Linked DNA regions of Homo sapiens. The protein of the gene in region 1 purifies or fractionates together with the protein of each later gene. This does not show direct contact. Each region holds a gene or a part of one and is shown on either strand. Other genes may lie near its edges.

What was found.
Region 2: the proteins of MRGPRX4 (region 1) and PTDSS2 purify together in Homo sapiens (affinity purification with mass spectrometry; one large-scale study listed by BioGRID and IntAct). This does not show direct contact.
Region 3: the proteins of MRGPRX4 (region 1) and SPG7 purify together in Homo sapiens (affinity purification with mass spectrometry; one large-scale study listed by BioGRID and IntAct). This does not show direct contact.
Region 4: the proteins of MRGPRX4 (region 1) and ATP1A3 purify together in Homo sapiens (affinity purification with mass spectrometry; one large-scale study listed by BioGRID and IntAct). This does not show direct contact.

The regions. Positions count from the first base shown.
Region 1 is NC_000011.10:18,170,645-18,175,891, reverse strand, and holds MRGPRX4 (mas-related G-protein coupled receptor member X4), read right to left. Parts: upstream 3,056-5,247; 5' UTR 2,636-3,055; coding exon 1,667-2,635; 3' UTR 1,612-1,666; downstream 1-1,611. UniProt on the Homo sapiens protein: Orphan receptor. Probably involved in the function of nociceptive neurons. May regulate nociceptor function and/or development, including the sensation or modulation of pain. Potently activated by enkephalins.
Region 2 is NC_000011.10:466,501-472,061, forward strand, and holds part of PTDSS2 (phosphatidylserine synthase 2), read left to right. Parts: intron 1-5,561. UniProt on the Homo sapiens protein: Catalyzes a base-exchange reaction in which the polar head group of phosphatidylethanolamine (PE) or phosphatidylcholine (PC) is replaced by L-serine. Catalyzes the conversion of phosphatatidylethanolamine and does not act on phosphatidylcholine.
Region 3 is NC_000016.10:89,528,583-89,532,402, forward strand, and holds part of SPG7 (mitochondrial inner membrane m-AAA protease component paraplegin isoform 1 precursor), read left to right. Parts: intron 1-894; coding exon 895-997; intron 998-2,100; coding exon 2,101-2,226; intron 2,227-3,321; coding exon 3,322-3,484; intron 3,485-3,820. UniProt on the Homo sapiens protein: Catalytic component of the m-AAA protease, a protease that plays a key role in proteostasis of inner mitochondrial membrane proteins, and which is essential for axonal and neuron development.
Region 4 is NC_000019.10:41,982,172-41,987,732, forward strand, and holds part of ATP1A3 (sodium/potassium-transporting ATPase subunit alpha-3), read right to left. Parts: intron 4,059-5,561; coding exon 3,945-4,058; intron 3,828-3,944; coding exon 3,693-3,827; intron 3,253-3,692; coding exon 3,135-3,252; intron 3,016-3,134; coding exon 2,747-3,015; intron 1-2,746. UniProt on the Homo sapiens protein: This is the catalytic component of the active enzyme, which catalyzes the hydrolysis of ATP coupled with the exchange of sodium and potassium ions across the plasma membrane.

The DNA.
Region 1 (5,247 bases):
AGTTCAACATTGTGAACAATGTGATACGAGCCACGAATAAATTTGGTTGGACAAATTGAAAACTATACACCTGTTTATTGTTATAGACCTCTTTATTGCTTTCATAGCTACTTTGTACTGTCTCCTGTATACTCAAAATGCATGTGTCAGCTCCCCTCAGTGAGGGTTAATCTGAGGGGCAGCCTCACTGTCTATGATCAGCACAGACCCTGCTGTGATGTCACATCTTCTCTTGGTGGTCTCTTCTGTCTGCTTGAGCTATCTGTTGAAGGGATAACCACTGGTGGAGAATAGTCCTGAATTTTGTACTGATCCTGTTTTTATAATTAAATGTTTTTAATTGTGGTAAAATGCACATAACATACATTTTACAACTTTCACCATTTTATTTGTACAATTCAATGTCATTAAGTGCATTCACAATAAGTCGTAACCGTTACCACTGTCCCTTTTAAGAACTTTGCATTATTCCACACAGAAAGTCTGTGCTCATTAAATAATGGCTACACATTCTCTCCATCATCCAGCACCAGGATCCTTCTAATTTATTTTCTGTGTTCACGAATTTCCTAGTTTGGATACCTCGTAGAATTTGACCATACAATATTGTTCTTTGGTATCTGGCATATTTTCCTTAGCACAATGTTTCCGTGTTCATCTAAGTCACAGCATGTATCAGAATTTTGTACCAACTGTAAGTTATTATCCGGATACTATAATTGACATTAGCATGGAAAAGTCAGATGTTTTCAGTTTTGCTTCTTATGTTAACAGCCATAAAATTAACTGAAAGTTACAGCCAGAACAATTTGTACAAAACCTGAAAGTATGAAGAATTCTCCTACAACTTAAAGACTCTGTAAATGAATAATAAATGGTTTTCAAGATAATTTCCAGTTTGAAACCAATTTTAATTTCCAATGGCCAAAATGGAACTGGTGGGGTGTATTTATAGGCTCCTCACTGGTCCGTTAGTCCAGGAAGAGCTAAATAAGCACTTACCAGTTCTCAAGGGGAAGGGGCCACGATTGTCTTTACTAGAAACCAAAGCCAACGTGTGACCATGTGTGGACAAATGACAGGAGAGGGCTATTCATAAAACCAATTTCTAAGACTGTTTTTATGAAGGGAGAATCTCTCTCTAAGGACATTATTTTGCTTTATATCTGAGAATTCAATGGAATTTAGAGGTAGCAGAACTCACTTATTAAGAATTGAGCTTCCAACTGCAGTAATGCCTCCAGTCATAGAAGGGAACATGATTTTCAGGGGAACATAGTCTGACAGATTAATAAGGAATCTTCCTTTTTGATACTATCAGGTAGGAAACAAGTATAAAGAAGAGTTTTAGGGTTGTGGACAGGAACTCCTTTTATTACAATGAAAAGTGCAGAAAAAGTGTTCAGTAGGAAAGATTCAGTGCAAGATAACAGGGAAAATGTATTGGTAATATCAAGGAGAATCCAAACATTGTACTGTCAGACTAATGCTTTCCATGGGTGAAAACTGCAACTGTCAGGTTAGATAAACATTTATTTGAAGACCTTGAGTTACCACTGAGACATTTCTGAGGCGAAACGCTAAGAAAAACGCATGTAATTGTCAAGGGTGGCAGGACAGTGTTGCTCTCAAAGTCCCGTCTGACTGACAGGGCAGAGGCTCTCCCTCATGGCCCCAATCTGCTTCCCGACAGCTCCAGGCTTTCCTCAGGAAGCTGCCCTTCACCTTTATCCACCTCAGGCTTGTCCTGCAGAGCCCTCTGGAGAACCAGCTTCAGGTTCTGCCTATTTTGACGCTGCCTAAAGGAGCCCACGAAGAAGTAAATGATGGGGTTGGCACTACTGTTTAGAGAGGACAGGGACATGCAAACCAGATAAACATGACAATATAAGACTTCCAAATTCAGGTGCATCCTGTAAATTAGGGCCCCCAGAATGCCGAAGGGCAGGCCGCAGAGGAGGAAGACCAGCACTGTGAGCAGGATGGTCACGTACAGCCTGGTCAGCGGCATCTTCCGGGATCCACAGAGGATCCTGACCAGCAGGACCAGGCTGGAAACACAGAGAACCACACATAAAAAAATCAGCCACGCGACTGGGATGAAATCTGACGTTTCACACCAACTAGAATCAGCACCACTAAACAGGAAGTCACAGAACCTCCACTCCAGCATACTAAACAGCAGGGACAGGCCCCAGAGCAGGACACACACGACCGCTGACAGGTGTGTGGGGCGGCGGCAGCGGTACCAGATGGGCCACAGAACAGACAGGCAGCGCTCGGTGCTGATGGCGCTCAGCATACTCAGGCCTGTAAAGTAGGGAAAGGTCATCACAGAAACGAGGATTTTGCGGATGAGATGGCTGATATTGATGAGGCGTAATGGCAAACGTATAATCTGGAAGCTGAGGAAGAGGAAGTCTGCTGCGGCCAGGTTGAGGATGTAGATGGAGACAGCGTTCCTGCGCATGCGGTAGCCCAGGAGCCAGAGCACAACCGCGTTTCCTGTCAGTCCGACAAGGGAAATGATGCACGTCAGCACCGTGAAGCTCAGGGTCTGATTGTAGCAAGGAGTCTCCTCACGTCCGTTGATTGGTGTCAGTTTTGTACCGAAGACTGGGACGGTTGGATCCATGCTCAGAAACCCTAGTCTGGTGCCCCTGGGAACACAAACCAGATGTGATCACCAGCTGTATCATCTCTGATTCTCCCCACCACCCTGCCGTATGGGATTTACTGTCCTCATTTAAAGAAGAGAGAAACAGAGGCTCGCAGATAATAAGTCACTTACCAAAGGTGGGGGTCCTCAAATCCAGTTTGAAATCCAGTTCTTGTTGACTCTGAAGCCTGACATCTCTCTACTGCCACACAAGTTCTGTGCTGACATGGGAATAACATTAGGATCAAAACACCCCCACTCATCCGGCCAGGGCTTTGGACCCGATGATTAATCTATCCTGGGTCTGAAATTTTCTTTCAGGTGGAGGAATTCAGATACACAAAGAGGTGGTTGTGACACACTCGTGACTAGGACTGGTCATCCATGGACAGGAAGGAAGACCATGCATTATGAACTAGAGGAAAATGTGACCTTTGCTAGGATAAGTGTGAAAATGGCTGGGCCTGGTGGGTGAGAAATAACTCAGTGTGTCAGTCATTGCAGACAGGACTACATTTTACATTTTATACTCCCAGTGCCTATTTCCATGAGCAGCACACTGTGCTTTTCATATACATTCATTCAATGAATGAATGCATGCATGAGACTAATGGTACTGGTAGATTTGGATGAAATGGAAAATAAAGATGAAAGCACAATGTAAGGTATTAGAACACACACGTATAACTGGATGAAGAAAATTTAATTCATCAGAATTCTATTTGTGGAAAGCTGTATCTGTGTTGAGAAGAATTCTTGATGTGTGCCCAAAACTTGAAATTGACCACTGATGTGCCTTTGAAATGAAGACTCAGTGTGGCTTTGCTGAACACCTAGAAGCATTTTTGTACACAGTGTTTGGGTAGGGTGTGGGTCTGAGCTGAATTACTCAGCAATAGAACAGAGGAAAGAGTAAGTGAAGATGAGGTCTGAGTGTAACTGACGGAGGTAATTGAAGTGTGGAAATATCTATGGGGGACTACTAAGTGTTCTGCTGGGTATACACAATGTAAACTTTTTGGTTCTCTCTTTCAGGAGATCTTTGGTAGCATTTCTTTGTTGATGCAAACATTTGTATGAGAGGCGTCCATGAGGGGAAATAGGCGATGTGTAGGGCTTGGAGTGTAAAGAGAGAGATTCATGCAGATTTCAACTGGAGAATGAGGATTAGGTCTAATCTGGGAGAATAACAGCAGCTGATTGAGAGTTTGTAAGGTATTGTCTCTTTTAATCACCCGAAGAGCCTAGGAGGTAAGAATTGGTATTATTCCCATATGGCAGATAATGCAATTGGAGCACAACGAAAGGGAATTATTTGTCCCAGGGGTTATGTATTACATAGTATGAATTTGAGTCCGGCAGGTCTGACTCACAATCCAGTCTTGGAGCAGCCCTTTATACCCAGCACCACCCTGTGTCGATTATATATGTTACAGGGAGTAAAGCAGAGGAGTGATTCTCAAGTTAAATCCAAGTTGGCAGCCAAAATTGTGGATTGAAAAAAAAACTGACCTAAGCAAACTCCACATAGAGAAGGAGAGGCAAATCAAAGAGGGAACAAAATAGAGGTGAGTGAATGCCATTTAGGAATAAATTCAGGAGTTCCTTTTTGCCTATCAGAGGTCACATTTGCTCTGGAATCCTGAGGATGCACAGGGGCAGGAGGCCTCCTGGTGGACAGAAGATGCACCCTTTGCTGGGAGTACAGAGAAGCATCAGGAGTGAATGCATCCATCATGAGCTCTCTTAGAGGGGCAAGGTGCCACAGCCCTGATTGGCCCAGAAAGGAAATGGGAGGAAAAGGAGAGCCTCTGTTATCCACACTCAGGGCACTAAAGAGTTTCTCTATCTATATTTATGGTATGATATGTTTGTCTTCCTCATGAAAACCAAAGCTCCATAAGGACTAAGTCATACCTGTCATTTTCCCTGTAGTATCACCAACATTTAGCCTGTGTTCCTTAAAGACCATCTATGGTATTATCCTCATATAACATAAGATGAAGCCAAGGCATAGAGAATTAAAGGGTTTTCCTGAGTTCACAACACGAAGAGCAAGTCTAATACCAGCCCCTGGTCCCTGGAACCCTGCATGAGGCTCCAGTTCTGTTCTCTGCCCCATCATTCATTATTTCTGAGGAGTTCCTGAAAAATCTTGATGTGAGCACAGAGTCAGAGACAATCAGGGCTGAAGAGACTGCTAGATTGCCCCAATATTCATTTTCCTCTTCGGTCACATAACAATTCTGAGAGTATAAAAGCAGCACAAAGACCCACATCCCAGTTTTCCTTGATGCTGGATGACATTGTATGACCAGGTGCTGTTAAGTGGAAGAATCACAAAGTGATGTAAGCAATTCCTTGCTCACAGGATCAATAGAAGGAGTAAAGCCTCTCCTTCCCCTCGTCCTTTTCCATAAGGCTGGAATGCTGATGTAGCTGGAAACCATGCAAGATCACAAAGATGAGGGCAACTCTCTAGGGACTGGGAGCCCCAATTTTTGGAATTCTGATGTGTGACGCCTTGGAGCTTCTACTTCAGATTTCAAAGATAGTCATTTCTGGGTATTCACAGGGGATTTTTTCCA
Region 2 (5,561 bases), about 18 Mb from region 1:
GGGTTCAAGCGATTCTCCTGCTTCAGCCTCCCGAGTAGCTGGGACTACAGGCATGCGCCACCTCGCCTGGCTAATTTTTGTATTTTTTAATAGAGACGAGGTTTCACCATGTTGGCCAGGTTGGTCTGAAACTCCTGGCCTCAAGTGATCCGCCCACCTCGGCCTCCCAAAGTGCTGAGATTACAGGTGTGAGCCACCGCGCACGGCCAAAACTGCCGCTTCTAAAACCATCAGCTCTCGTGAGACTCCCTCACTACATGAGAACAGCATGGGGGAACCGCCCCCATAACCCAGTCACTTCCCTCCCTCCACACGTGGGGATTACAATTCAAGATGAGATTTGGGTGGGGACACAGCGAAACCGTGTCACATGGCAAAACCCCGTCTCTACAAAAAATACAAAAATTAGCCAGGCGTGGTGGTGCACACCTGCAGTTCCAGCTACTCAGGAGTCTGAGGTGGGAGGATCCCTTGAGCCCGGGAGGTCAAGGCTGCAGTGAGCCAAGATCACACCACTGCACTCCAGCCTAGGCAACAGAGCAAGACCCTCTCTTTCAAACACAAACCTGGGTGACACCCACTCGGAAGGCTAAGGCAGGAGAATCACTTGAACCCAGGAGGCAGAGGTTGCAGTGAGCCGAGATGGGGCCACTGCACTCCAGCCTGGGTGACAAAGGCAAAACTTTGTCTCAAAACAAAGCAAAACCTGGGTGAAAGGTCTAAGCAGATGTTCACCAGGGAAGTTATTCAGACGGGAGATTGCGGTGGGAGGATACCCAGCATCATTTGTCCTTCAGGAACTGGAAACAGGGAGACGCCACTGCATACCCGACGGAGCAGCTAAAACCTTAAAAACCGACAGTACCAACGCTTCCAGGAACTCTCACCCATTGCTGGTGGGAATACAAAAGGCTAAAGCCGCTTTAGAAGACAGTTTCACAGACTCTCACAGAACTAAATATAAATATATTCTTGGGCTGGACGTGGTGGTTCACGCCTGTCATCCCAGCACTTTGGGAGGCTGAGGCAGGTGGATCACGAGGTCAGGAGATCAAGACAAGCCTAGCCAACATAGTGAAACCCCGTCTCTACTAAAAATGCAAAAAATTAGCCTGGCATGGTGGCAGGCACCTATAATCCCAGCTACTCGGGAGGCCAGGAGGCGGAGGTTGCAGTGAGCCGAGATCGCAACATTGCACTCCAGCCCGGGCAACAGTGCGAGACTCTGTCTCAAAAAATATAGATATAGATATAGATAGATAGATAGATTCTTACCATGCAATCTAGCAGTTTTGCTCCTGAATATTTATCCAACTGAATTGAAAACTTATGTCCACATAAAAACCTGCATGCAGGCCAGGCATGGTGGCTCACGCTTATAATCCCAGCAGTTTGGGAGGCTGAGGCAGGAGGATCGCTTGAGCCCAGGAGTTCAAGACCAGCCTGGGCAACATACTGAGACCCCATCTCTACCAAACTAAAAAACTTAGCCGAGTGTCACAGCACACACACATGGTCCCACCTGTCAAGAGGCTGAGTGGGATCTCAAGCCCGGAAGGCAGAGGTTGCAGCGAGCTGTGATTGAGCCACTGCACTGCAGCCTGGGCAACAGGGTGAGACCCCATCTCTAAAAGATAGTAATGAGCATTAAGCCACTGCGACCGGGAGGAACCTTAAATACATGTTTCTATAAATACACATTCCTAAGTGAGAGGAGCCAGTTGAGAAGGCCGCGCACTGTGATTTCAGCTCGATGACCTTCTGGAAGAGGCAATATGATGTGGTAGTGAAAACATCAGTTGTTTCCCGGGGAAAGGGGAGAGTGGATAGTAGAATGCAGCATTCGTATGGCAGTGAGGCCACTCTGTGTGGCACCATCCTGGTTGGTACATGACACTGCGTTTGTCCGAACCTGTAGAACTGGACAACACGAGCAGACCGTGTGCAGATTTTAAACATTCATTGAGGAGATGGGGGTCCCGGCGGGGAAGGCCGACTGACAAGAATCTTAACTACTGCAGATGCATTCCGTGACCTTCCTGAAGGGTGTTCAGAGGAAGGTGCTGAGTAACTTTGGAAATGAGCAGTGTCTATAAGGCCAGAGGCAAAAGGAATGGCACAGACGCTGCTCTAGTCGATAAAGTTTTGCTGCACAGAGGTGCTGACTGGCAGCTCTGTCACTGTGGTGTGTATGATGGCTGTGGGAGGGGAGTCTCTGGATAATCAGAGAAGGAGGGGAGTCTCTGGGTAATCAGAGGGAGGAGGAGGGGAGTCTCTGGGTAATTGGAGGAGGGGAGTCTCTGGGTAATCGGAGGAGGGGAGTCTGGGTAATCGGAGGAGGGGAGTCTCTGAGATGGAGGGGAGTCTCTGAATAATTGGAGAAGGAGGGGAGTCTCTGGGTAATCGGAGGGAGGAGGGGAGTCTCTGGGTAATCGGAGAAAGAGGGGAGTCTCTGGGTAATCGGAGGGAGGAGGAGGGGAGTCTCTGGGTAATCGGAAGGAGGAGGAGGGGAGTCTCTGGGTAATCGGAAGGAGGAGGAGGGCAGTCTCTGGGTAATCAGAGGGAGGAGGAGGGGAGTCTCTGGGTAATCGGAGGGAGGAGGAGGGGAGTCTCTGGGTAATCGGAAGGAGGAGGAGGGGAGTCTCTGGGTAATTGGAAGGAGGAGGAGGGCAGTCTCTGGGTAATCAGAGGGAGGAGGAGGGGAGTCTCTGGGTAATCGGAAGGAGGAGGAGAGGAGTCTCTGGGTAATCGGAAGGAGGAGGAGGGCAGTCTCTGGGTAATCGGAGGGAGGAGGAGGGGAGTCTCTGGGTAATCGGAGGGAGGAGGAGGGCAGTCTCTGGGTAATCGGAGGGAGGAGGAGGGGAGTCTCTGGGTAATCGGAGGGAGGAGGAGGGGAGTCTCCGGGGGAGTCTCTGGGTACTCGGAGGAGGAGGGCAGTCTCTGGGTAATCGGAGGGAGGAGGAGGGCAGTCTCTGGGTAATCGGAGGGAGGAGGAGGGGAGTCTCTGGGTAATCGGAGGGAGGAGGAGGGGAGTCTCCGGGTAATCAGAGGGACGAGGTTGGAGTGGCCGCTGTGATGGTGGATTACCATTGCACGTTTAGCCCAGAAGAGACAAAGATGGTTAAACAGTGTGTGCGCAGTGGTTAATGGATACACACAGATCTTGTTGCTGTACAAGCTGAGGGGGCCTAGAACCAGCTATGCTTGCAGCAGTGAGCACACCCAGGCCCAGATCCTGGTTCCTAGTGCCCTCCAGTCCACGGGGCCAGGGCTCTGAGGAGAAATGGCTGATTCCAGCACCGGGGCAGGAAATGCCCAGGATCAGCTGATCCTGGCAGTTCCAGAAAGTGAGGAGCTCTGTAAACAAAACCCCACAGTCACGGGATTGCGTCCCAGTGAAAGAGCCTCCCAGTGGCCAAAGAGCAACAAAATAATAAAGTAGTATTAGAATATAACCCAGAGTAGAAAATAAACATCCACGAGCCCATAGTGATATAAGTGATTGAGTAAATAAACAGAGGGAACAAGACCAACCTTCCCTGCAGAAGGTTTTCAGTAAATGAGGTAGATCCCCCCATTCCAGGAGCTGGCGTGAGCTCCCGGCACCGCTGTGCGCTGCGCGTGGTGACCTGACCTCCTTCCTGGGCGTGCAGCACGGAGAGGGCAGTGGGAGGAGGACGCTGCAGCCGAGGTGCCCGCAGACACCCCCAAGCCCAGTGGTCAGGTCAGCATGCACTGGTCATGTTCATGGCGTGGCCGACGGGGAGGCTGCTGCCCCATCCTCCCAACCCCGACGACCCCAGCCCGGCCATGCAGAGGCATAGTCGACCATCTCACTAAGGAACATTCCACAGAATTCCTGACCAGGCCTCCTCCAAACCATCCAGGTCATCAGAGACAAGGAGAGTCTGAGAAACCGTCCCAGCCTCGGGGAGCCTGAAGAGACAGAACGAGTAGATGCCATGTGGCTTCCAGGAAGAGATTGTTGGGGGCGGGGCAGGGGGAAGGACATCAGGGGAGAGCGAAGGAAGTGTAGGCCTCAGCAGCTGTGTGGCAGCACTGGCTTATTTATTTTTTATTTTTTATGTTTATTTTATTTTATTTTTTGAGACAGAGTATCACTGTGTCACCCAGGCTGGAGTGTAGTGGCGTGATCTCGGCTCACTGCAACCTCCGCCTCTCGGGTTCAAGTGATTCTCCTGCCTCAGCCTCCCGAGTAGCTGGGATTACAGGTGCCTGCCACCACATCTGGCTAATTTGTGTATTTTTAGTAGAGATGGGGTTTCACCATGTTGGTCAGGCTGGTCTCGAACTCCTGACCTTGTGATCCGCCTGCCTCAGCCTCCCAAAGTGCTGGGATTACAGGCGTGAGCCACCGCACCCAGCCAGCACCGGCTTATTAATGGTGAGATGTTAATGGGAAAACTGGGCCTGTGAGATATGGGAGCTTTTACTATTTTTACAATAATTCTGTAAATCTAAAACCATTCTAAAATTAAAAATTTATTTTTAAAATGCAATATATTTGTTTTCCTTTTAAAGCACTTCCCTCATTCTTACCCAACGGGACACACCTTCTCAAGTACTTAAGTAATTCTTTTTTTTTTTTTTTTTTGAGACTGAGTCTTGCTGTCACCCAGGCTGGAGTGCAGTGGCGCGATCTCAGCTCACTGCAACCTCTACCTCCCAGATTCAAGTGATTCTCCTACTTCAGCCTCCCGAGTAGCTGGGATTACAGGCGTCTGCCACCACACCTGGCTAATTTCTTATATTTTTAGTAGAGACAGGAGTTTCATGTCGGCCAGGCTGGTCTCGAACTCCTGACCTTTAATGATCCACCTACCTCAGCCTCCCAAAGTGCTAAGATTACAGGTGTGAACCACTGTGCCCGGCAAGTAATTCTTATGAACAAATTAGCCTTATAAAGTTGTCATAAACATTATGTGATGTGTGGCCAGGTTAGAGTCCTGTGTGACCCGGTCTGAGCTGGCCTCTGGGCAGCATGCCGTGTGGGGGCTGCCACAAGCTGATTCAGGGAGCACCGGCCTGGGGTGACGCACGCCTGTCGGGCGGAGGGCGGCCTGGGGTGACACGGATGGTGGCCTGGGATGACACGCGCCTGTCAGGCGGAGGGCGGCCTGGGGTGACACGCACCTGTCTGGTGGATGGCGGCCTGGGGTGACGCGCGCCTGTCGGGCGGATGGTGGCCTGGGGTGACGTGGATGGCGGCCTGGGGTGACGCAGATGGTGGCCTGGGGTGACGCGGATGGCGGCCTGGGGTGACGCAGATGGTGGCCTGGGGTGACGTGGATGGCGGCCTGGGGTGACGCGGATGGTGGCCTGGGGTGACGCGGATGGTGGCCTGGGGTGACGCGCACCTGTCTGGTGGATGGCGGCCTGGGGTGACGCGCACCTGTCGGGCAGATGGTGGCCTGGGGTGACGTGGATGGCGGCCTGGGGTGATGCAGATGGCGGCCTGGGGTGACGCGGATGGCGGCCTGGGGTGACGCGGATGGCGGCCTGGGGTGATGCGCGCCTGTCGGGCGGATGGTGGCCTGGGG
Region 3 (3,820 bases), on another chromosome or scaffold:
GGCAAAAGTCCTGGGATTTGCTTTTTTTTTTTTTTTTTTTTGGAGTCAGGGTCTCACTCTGTCGCCCAGGCTGGAGTGCAGTGGTGCAATCTCAGCTTACTGCAGCCTCGACCTCCCAGGATCAGTGATTCTCCCACCTCAGCCTCCTGAGTAGCTGGGACTACAGATGCACACCACCACATCCAGCTAAGTTTTTTTGTATTTTTAGTAGACACAGGGTTTATTCTTACATTTTTCTTTTCTTTTTGAGATGGAGTCTTGCTCTGTAGCTCAGGCTGGAGTTCAGTGGCACGATCTTGACTCACTGCAGCCTTCACCTCCTAGGTTCAAGCATTTCTCCTGCCTCAGCCTCCCAAGTAGCTGGGATTGCAGACGCATGCCACCATGTCCAGCTAATTTTTGTATTTTTTTAGTAGATATGGGGTTTTACCATGTTGGCCAGGCTGGTCTCAAACTCCTGACCTTGTGATTCACCCGCCACGGCCTCCCAAAGTGCTAGGATTACAGGCGTGAGCCACCGCGCCCGGCCTGAGATTTGCTTTTTACTCTTAGGCTGATCTTGCCTGCCTGATTGAAGCTGATCGCTTACATTTGAAAACAAAATATACTGAAAATAGAAAAACCTGAACGTTGTTATTGTCACAAGGCTGGCTAGATCTCCGGCATCTGCACACTCAGTCTGACCATTTGGGAAGCTTTCATGAAAAAGCACAGTCAGCGAGAATGAGACGAGAGAACCCATTTCCACAACCATTTTAATCTGCGCATCGGTCCCAGACGTAGGGATTCCTCGTCTCATCTTGGAAACATTGCCAGCAGTGGTTCTGATTTGGAAGCCTGCGTCTGTCACGTGACACCGTCTGAGCCTGTGCCTGCCTCTCTTTCTTCCGGCAGTGCCCTGTACTCTGTGGGGATGACGGCAGTGGGCCTGGCCATCCTGTGGTATGTTTTCCGTCTGGCCGGGATGACTGGAAGGGAAGGTGGATTCAGTGCTTTTGTAAGTTCTGTAAATCAGAGCTCTCTGAACTCTTTCTGGTTTGTGTTTGCTGAATACTTTTCCCATAAGCTATACGATGAATACACAGGGAAAACCTGTTGCAGAGAGTAGCCTGAAGCCACAATTAGACAGCAGCTCACCTTCCTTTCCCATGGTCCGGCTGTAAGGCGTGTAGTAACCAATGTTGCCTGAGGGCCTCTCACCCCTAACTCTGGGGTGCCTGAGCCTTGTGAGATTACAGGGCAGTTGAATCTGCGTTTTTCTTTTCTTTTTTTTTGAGACGGAGTTTCGCCCTTCTTGCCCAGGCTGGAGTGCAGCCGTGCGATCTCAGCTCACCGCAACTTGCACCTCCCGCATTCAAGCAATTCTCCTGCCTCAGCTTCCCGAGTAGCTGGGATTACAGGCACGCGCCACCACGTCCAGCTAATTTTGTATTTTTGGTAGAGACGGGGTTTCTCCATGTTGTTCAGGCTGGTCTCGAACTCCCGACCTCAGGTGATCCTCCCGCCTCAGCCTCCCAAAGTGCTGGGATTATAGGCATGAGCCACTGCACCTGGCCTTTCTTTTTTGTGTGTGTGTGTGTGTGACAGAGTCTGGCTCTGTTGCCCAGGCTGGAGTGCAGTGGTGCGATCTCAGCTCACTGCAACCTCTGCCTCCTGGGTTCAAGCGATTCTCCTGCTTCAGCCTTCCAAGTAGCTGTGACTACAGGTGCCTGCCACCACACCCAGCTAATTTTTTTGTATTTTTGGTAGAGACAGGTTTCACCGTGTTAGCCAGGGTGGTCTCGATCTCTTGACCTCGTGATCCGCCCATCTCGGCCTCCCAAAGTGCTAGGATTACAGGCGTGAGCCACCATGCCTGGCTGAGTAATTTTTTTTAAAGCAAATTGCTAGATAAGTTTCTTACTAATTAATGACGAAACATTTCCCTTCTGTGCTTGAAGACTGACTGTGAGCCTCGTCAGCCTGACATGAGTGAAGCCTTGGGATCCTAGGATGGAGACGTGGGGTTGGGGCGGCTCAGGTGCGTGGGCTGAGCGCTGGCATCGTGCTGCTGATTTCCTGACTTCGCCCAGCTCCTTGCACTTTGTTCTTTCTGCACAGAATCAGCTTAAAATGGCTCGTTTCACCATTGTGGATGGGAAGATGGGGAAAGGAGTCAGCTTCAAAGACGTGGCAGGAATGCACGAAGCCAAACTGGAAGTCCGCGAGTTTGTGGATTATCTGAAGGTGAAAGCAGCGTGGGCCGGGAGGGAGGTGTGAGCAGAGGCCGGCCGTCCTCCTCTCCCAGAAGGGCTCCTGCGGGACCTGGAATTCCATCGATGACGTGTCGTGGGTTGGCGGTGACCTCTACCATGTCCCATGGGGACACCAAGCAGGTGCTGGTGCCTGTTCAACCAGCAGCACAAGCCTCGTGCACATGGTTCAGCCAAGCAGAGGCTGCCAAGACCCATGCCTACTGTGCCGTTAGCCGTCCTGGGCCCTTCATCCCTTGCAAAGCTCTGTGCTTTTTCCAGAACCACATAAACACCTTAGCCAGTTGGTGGCAGTGCATGAGCTGCCTATCACGTGCGTCACTTACACGTTTCCTCCGCGGGCCTGGTACGGTGGGTCGCACCTGTAGTCCTGGCACCTCGAGGGGCTGACATGTGTTCCCTCTGCAGGCCTGGTACAGTGGGTCACGCCTGTAGTCCTGGCACCTCGGGGCGCTGAGGCAGGGGAGTGACTGAGCCCAGGAGTAGGAGATCAGCCTGGGCAACAGTGAGACCCTGTCTCTGCAAAACATTTTTTTATTTAATTAATTTTTTTTTTCGAGACAGAGTCTCACTTTGTCACTCAGGCTGGAGTGCAGTGGCACAATCTCGGCTCACTACAACCTCCACCTCCCCAGTTCAAGTGATTCTCCTGCCTCAGCCTCCCGAGTAGCAGGGATCACAGGCGCCCACCACCATGCACGGCTAATTTTTGTATTTTTAGTAGAGACGGGGTTTTTCCATGTTGGCCAGGCTGGTCTCAAACTCCTGATCTCAAGCTACGCGCCTGCCTCAGCCTCCCAAAATGTTGGAATTCCAGGTGTGAGCCACCGCACCTGGCCTGCAAGAAGTTTTTAAAAGTAGCTGGGCGTGGTGCCACATGCCTGTATATTCCCAGCTACTCGAGAGGCTGAGGTGAGAGGGTGGCTTGAACCCAGGAGTTTGAGGCTGCAGTGAGCTATCATGGCACCCACTGCACTCCAGCCTGCGTGACCCAGAGAGACCTTACCTCTAAAAAACAAAAAAACGGAATCCCCAAGTAGTTAGTGTTGCATTGTCTGCTGCCGTCCAGAGCCCAGAACGCTTCCTCCAGCTTGGCGCCAAGGTCCCAAAGGGCGCACTGCTGCTCGGCCCCCCCGGCTGTGGGAAGACGCTGCTGGCCAAGGCGGTGGCCACGGAGGCTCAGGTGCCCTTCCTGGCGATGGCCGGCCCAGAGTTCGTGGAGGTCATTGGAGGTAGGTGCTGTGGTTGGGGGCTGTGGGTGGGCTTGGCTGACTACCTGGCTCCTTTCACACATCCTTCCTCTGGTGTCTGGACTGAAAGGGACACGGGTGGGTGGGGGAGTAGAGAAGGAAAGCGAGGTCTGGGTTGGCGGAGGGGTTTTGTCTGCGAAGCACATGATGTTTGCTTCAAAGCCACCGTCACTTGTGGCCTGGGGGGCCAGCACGGTGCGTGTGAACCCTGAGGGGTGGCCAGGGGCCCCCGCGAGCAGCTGCCGTGTGTCTGTTTGTAGGGAATGGAGCTGGTAGCTTTAGTTGTCCTTGGTGTAGAACTTTGTCTGGCCCGGGTAC
Region 4 (5,561 bases), on another chromosome or scaffold:
ACGAGGGCCACAGCCCAGCTGCCCAGCCCCCAGAGAATCCTGAGGGCCTGGAAAAGAATGAGGCAGCACCCAGCAATGCCACCCCCAATTCAGACCAATAGAAACAGGGCAGAGACACCCAAAGACAGGGACTAGAATGCTCATAGCAGCCACATGCATAATAGTGCAAAACAGCCAGGTGCAGTGGCTCACGCCTGTAATCCCAGCACTTTGGGAGGCCGAGGTAGGCGCATCACTTGAGATCAGGAGTTCGAGACCAGCCTGGCTAACATGGTGAAACCCCATCCCTACTAAAAATACAGAAATTAGCAGGGCATGATGGTACACTCCTGTCATCCCAGCTACTTGGGAAGCTGAGGCACGAGAACCCCTTGAACCCAGGAGGTGGAGGTTGCAGTGATCCGAAATCGTGACACTGCACTCCAGCCTGGGCAACAGAGTGAGACTCCAACTCAAAAAAAAAAAAAATTGTCCAAAACTGCAAACTACTCAAATGTCCACTAACAGCAGAAAAGATAAATTGTGGACAATGGAATACTAACATTGATAAAAACAAATACATTACTGCTGCCTGCACCTGCATGGGTGAACGTCAAAAACATGTTCAGCCAAAAAGAGCCAGAAATGAGTTCATACTGAATTATTCCGTTAATAGGAAGTTTGAACACAGGCAAAGTTAATCTATGCTGTTAGCAGCCAGATCAGGGGTTACCCTTGGGTTGGGGGGCAGGGGCTAAATAAGGTCTTGAGGGGGCTTCAGGGAGACGCAGTCTCGTTGCAGCTGACGTGATTCTGTTCAGTTTGCCCCAAATCATCAGACTATGTGCTCACAATATGCTTAATCCTTTGCGTATAAAAATCCATTTGACATAGGGTAGCATTCAACATTGCTAATATGGAAAACAGTAAACTTTTTTTTTTTTTGAGACACAGTCTTGCTCTGTCGTCCAGGCTGGAGTGCAGTGGCTCGATCTCAGCTCACTGCAACCTCCACCTCCCAGGTTCAAGCAATTCTTGTGCCTCAGCCTCCCAAGTAGCTGGGATTACAGGCGCCCACCATCACGCCTGGCTAATTTTTGTATTTTTAGTAGAGATGGGGTTTTGCCATGTTGGCCAGGCTGGTCTTGAACTCCTGACCTCAAGTGATCCACCCACCTCGGATTCCCAAAGTGCTGGGATTACAGGCGTGAGCCACCCTGCCCGGCCCTAATATGGAAAACTTCACATAAAACATTAAGTCAAAGAATGAAAGAGGAGAATGGTATTTCTAAGATAGTCCCTGCCATGCACCTTGAAGACAGCATTTAGTCAATATGCTCACAGCTGTCAGGCGGAACCTCACAGAGAATGGACTTCTGGGGTGAAGCTGGCAGCAAAGCAGCCAGAGAAAAAATTTTTAAAAATAATAATAATAATTATTATTATTATAATAATTATTATTATTATTATTTTCTTGAGATGGAGTCTCCCTCTGTCACACAGGCTAGAGTGCAGTGGTTCAATCATGGCCCACTACAGCCTCAACCTCCCGGGTCAGCCTCCCAAATAGCTGGAACTACAGACATGTACCACCACGCCTGGCTAATTTAAAAAAATTTTTTTTTTTTTTTTTTTTTTTTTGAGACAGAATCTCGCTTTTGTCGCCCAGGCTGGAGTGAGGTGGCACGATCTCGGCTCACTGCAAGCTCTGCCTCCTAGGCTCAAGCTATTCTCCTGTCTCAGCCTCCTGAGTAGCTGGGATTCCAGGCACCCATCACCACGCCTGGCTAATTTTTATACTTTTAGTAGAGATGGGGTTTTGCCATGTTGGCCAGTCTGGTCTCGAACTCCTGACCTCAGGTGATCCACCCGCCTCGGCCTCCCAAAGTCTTGGGACTACAGGCATGAGCCACTGCGCCCAGCCTTCACATTTTTTGGTAGAGATGGGTTCTTACTATGTTGTCCAGGCTTGTCTCAAACTCCTGACCTCAAGCAGTCCTCCTGCCTCAGCCTCCCAAACTGTTGGGATTAAAGGCGTGAGCCACTGCGCCAGGCTTATTATTTTATTTTATTTATTTATTTATTTATTTTTGAGATGGAGTTTCACTCTTGTCACCCAGGCTGGAGTGCAATGGCGTGATCTTGGCTCACTGCAACCTCCGCCTCCCAGGTTCAAGCGATTCTCCTGCCTCAGCCTCCTGAGTAGCTGGGATTACAGGCATGTGCCACCACGCCCCACTAATTTTGTATTTTCAGTAGAGACAGGGTTTCACCATGTTGGCCAGGCTAGTCTTGAACTCCTGACCTCAGCTGATCTGCCCGCCTTGGCCCCCCAAAGTGCTGGGATTACAGCGTGAGCCAGTGCACCCAGCCTCATTATTTTATTTTTTAACTTGATGTACTCTTCAACTTTTCATCATGAGCGTGCACTTCTTAATTTTGCAATAGGATTGTTGGCTCTTTACGGCTTGCCAGTGTTTCTCAAGATTTTTGTTTGTTTCTTTCTTTGATTGTTTGCTTTGTTAATGAGGCCCTCTGAGTCAGGCCCAAGTTGTCTTTCACAAGAATACTGTGATCCAGGCCCCCAGCCCCTTCTCCGGACCCAGGGGTCCAGATCCCAGCCCCTCCTCCCCCAGACACACGGGTCCAGGCCTCTAGCCCCTCCTCCCTCAGACTCAGGGGTCCAGGATCCCAGCCCCTCCTCCCTCAGACCCAGGAGCCCAGACCCCCAGGCCCTCCCCACCCAGACCCAGGAGCCTGGCCTTACAGTGACAGTGGCCAGCAGACCCTCTGGGACATTGGCCACGATGATGCCGATGAGGAAGATGACAGCCTCAAGCCAGGTGTATCCGAGAATGAGGGAGAGGATGAAGAAGGAGACACCCAGGAAGACAGCCACGCCGGTGATGAGCTGGATGAAGTGCTCAATCTCGATGGCGATGGGCGTCTTGCCCACCTCCAGCCCTGATGCCAGGGTGGCGATACGGCCCATGACAGTGCGGTCGCCCGTGGCCACCACCACGCCCCGAGCCGTGCCTGCAGGCCAGAGGGGTTAGGCTGAGGTGGGGTGGCTCAGGGAGGTTCTGGAGGCCTGACCCCCTGGGACACATCCCTGTGTCTGCCCCAGCTGTGTGTCTTCTCTGCACCCGCCTCACCTTCCACACAGTTGGTGGAAAAGAAGGTGATGTTCCGAGTCTCCAAGGGGTTGTCGTGAGTGCAGTCGGGAGAGCGAGTCTGGGGCTCGGATTCGCCAGTCAGGGAGGAGTTGTCCACCTGGGGGTAGGTGCAGCAGAGAGAGGGTTCAGTCCAGGGCCTGGGACAGGAGGGTATTTGTGTACAGGGCTTGGGGCTGAAGCCTGTGTGCCTGGAGATCACAGCTAGAAGCCTGGGTGCCCAGTGGGTGAGTGGTGTGTGGGAGGCCAGAGGCTGGGATCTTGAAGGTGGGGAAGGCACAGTGCTGCTGGCCAAGGTCTAGGGTCCCTAAGGATCTCCGAAAGGTGAGGGCTGGGCCTGGACTCCTGACTGTTGGGTGAGGAGGTGGCCCAGGGCCTAAACTCCTGGGTCTGAGGGAGGAGGGCCTGGGGGCCTGGACTCCTGGGTCTGAGGGAGGAGGGGTTGGGACCTGGACTCCTGAGTGTGAGGGAGGAGGGGCTGGGCCTGAGCTCCTGGGCAGCCCGAGGGAGGGTAAAGCCGGGCCCTAGGCCCAGGCCCACCTTGCAGCCGTGGGCTGAGATGATCCGCAGGTCAGCTGGCACTCGGTCTCCACCCTTGATCTCCACCAGGTCCCCGACCACCACCTCCTCAGCGTTCACCTGCATCTTCTCACCTTCCCGGATCACCAGGGCTTGCTGAGGTGGGATGGAGTAATGTCACCTCCCAGACTCCCTCTGCCTGGGGGTCACTGGGCCCGGCCCCCAGCCCATACACTAACACCCCCGTCTGGCCCCTTGCTGGGCACCCTTCACCTGGGGCACCATGTTCTTGAAGGACTCCATGATCTTGGAGCTCTTGGCCTCCTGGTAGTAGGAGAAGCAGCCAGTGATGATCACCACGGCCGCCAGCACGATGCCCAGGTACAGCTGTGGGGAGATGTGGGGATGTTGATCAGGGGCCGCCCAAGCCACTCTCCACCAGTCCCTGCTCGCCTGGAGTCTGGGAAGGGAGCTTTGTGTCAGTGGGGGTCTGTATTTGTGTGTCTGACCCTAGGTTGGTTATGAGGGTTGGTGTGTCTGAGTCTCCCCTGTTTGTGCTTGAGTCCCTCTTTCTGTAATGGTTGTGTTTGAATCTAAGGGTCTGTCGATTTTTTTTTTGAGACAGAGTCTCACTCTGTCGCCCAGGCTGGAGTGCAATGGCATGATCTTGGCTCACTGCAATCTCCGCCTCCTGGTTCAAGCGATCCTCCTGCCTCAGCCTCCTGAGTAGCTGGGACTACAGGTGCATGCCACCACACCTGGCTAATTTTGTGTATTTTTAGTAGAGATGGGGCTTCACCATGTTGGCTAGGATGGTCTTGATCTCCTGACCTTGTGATCTATCACCTTGGCCTCCCAAAGTGCTGGGATTACAGGTGTGAGCCATCTTTCCTGGCATTTTTTTTTTTTTTTTTTTTTGAGACAGGGTCTCGCTCTGCTGCCTAGGATGGAGTACAGTGGCACAATCTCAGTTCACTGTAGCCTCAACCTCCCAGATTCAAGCAATCCTCCCTCCTCAGCCTCCGGAGTAGCTAGGACTACAGGTGTGCGCCACCAGGCCCGGCTATGTTTTGTGTTTTTTTAGAGGCTGGGTCTGTCTGGGTATGTTACTCAGGCTACTGGAACTCCTGGTCTCAAGTTACCCTCCTGCCTTGGCCTCCCAAGGTGCTGGGATGACAGGCGTGAGCCACCATGCCCGACTTGTCCATCTGTTTTGTGTGTGTGTCTGTCCTCCTGCACATGTTGAGTCTGGGATGCGGCTGTCTGTCCATGTGTCTGTCTGACTGGCTGCATGCCTGACTTTACATTCTACAAGGCAGCTTCTTTGGTTCTCTGTGTGTGGATCTCTGTCTCTGTGTCTCCAGCTCTGCCTCTCTGTGAGAGCTTATGTCTAAGACTGTTTAGATTTGAACATCTGAGGACACTCTCTGTGCCTGACTCTCATGTCTCTCTGTCACCAGGTTATGCCTGCATTGCTGTGTGTGTGTGTGCGTGTCAGTGTGTGTGTGAGTTTCTCTGTCAGTGTATATCTGAGTCTGTGTCTGTGTTTCTGAATTAGGTGGCCATGTTTGAAACCACATCCTGGTGTGGCATCTGCGTTGACCCTCCGTGCACATGCGTGTGTGTGCACACACGCCTACCCAGGTGAGCAGCTCTGTGTGGCTGGTGTGTGGTCTGTGTTATGCGCATGGGATCTGAGGCTGCATCTCGAATGTGTCCCTGTGTTATGGGGATGGGCCCTGATGTATCAGCAGCGGGGTGTGCCTGGGTCTCTATGTGACACTCACTCTGGGTATCTGTCAAGCCATGACCACCTGCTGGTGTCTGTTCTCAAGGCCGCTGAGGTCACACAGCCTTGGGACAGAGCCCCGGCTCACACATCCTGCTGTG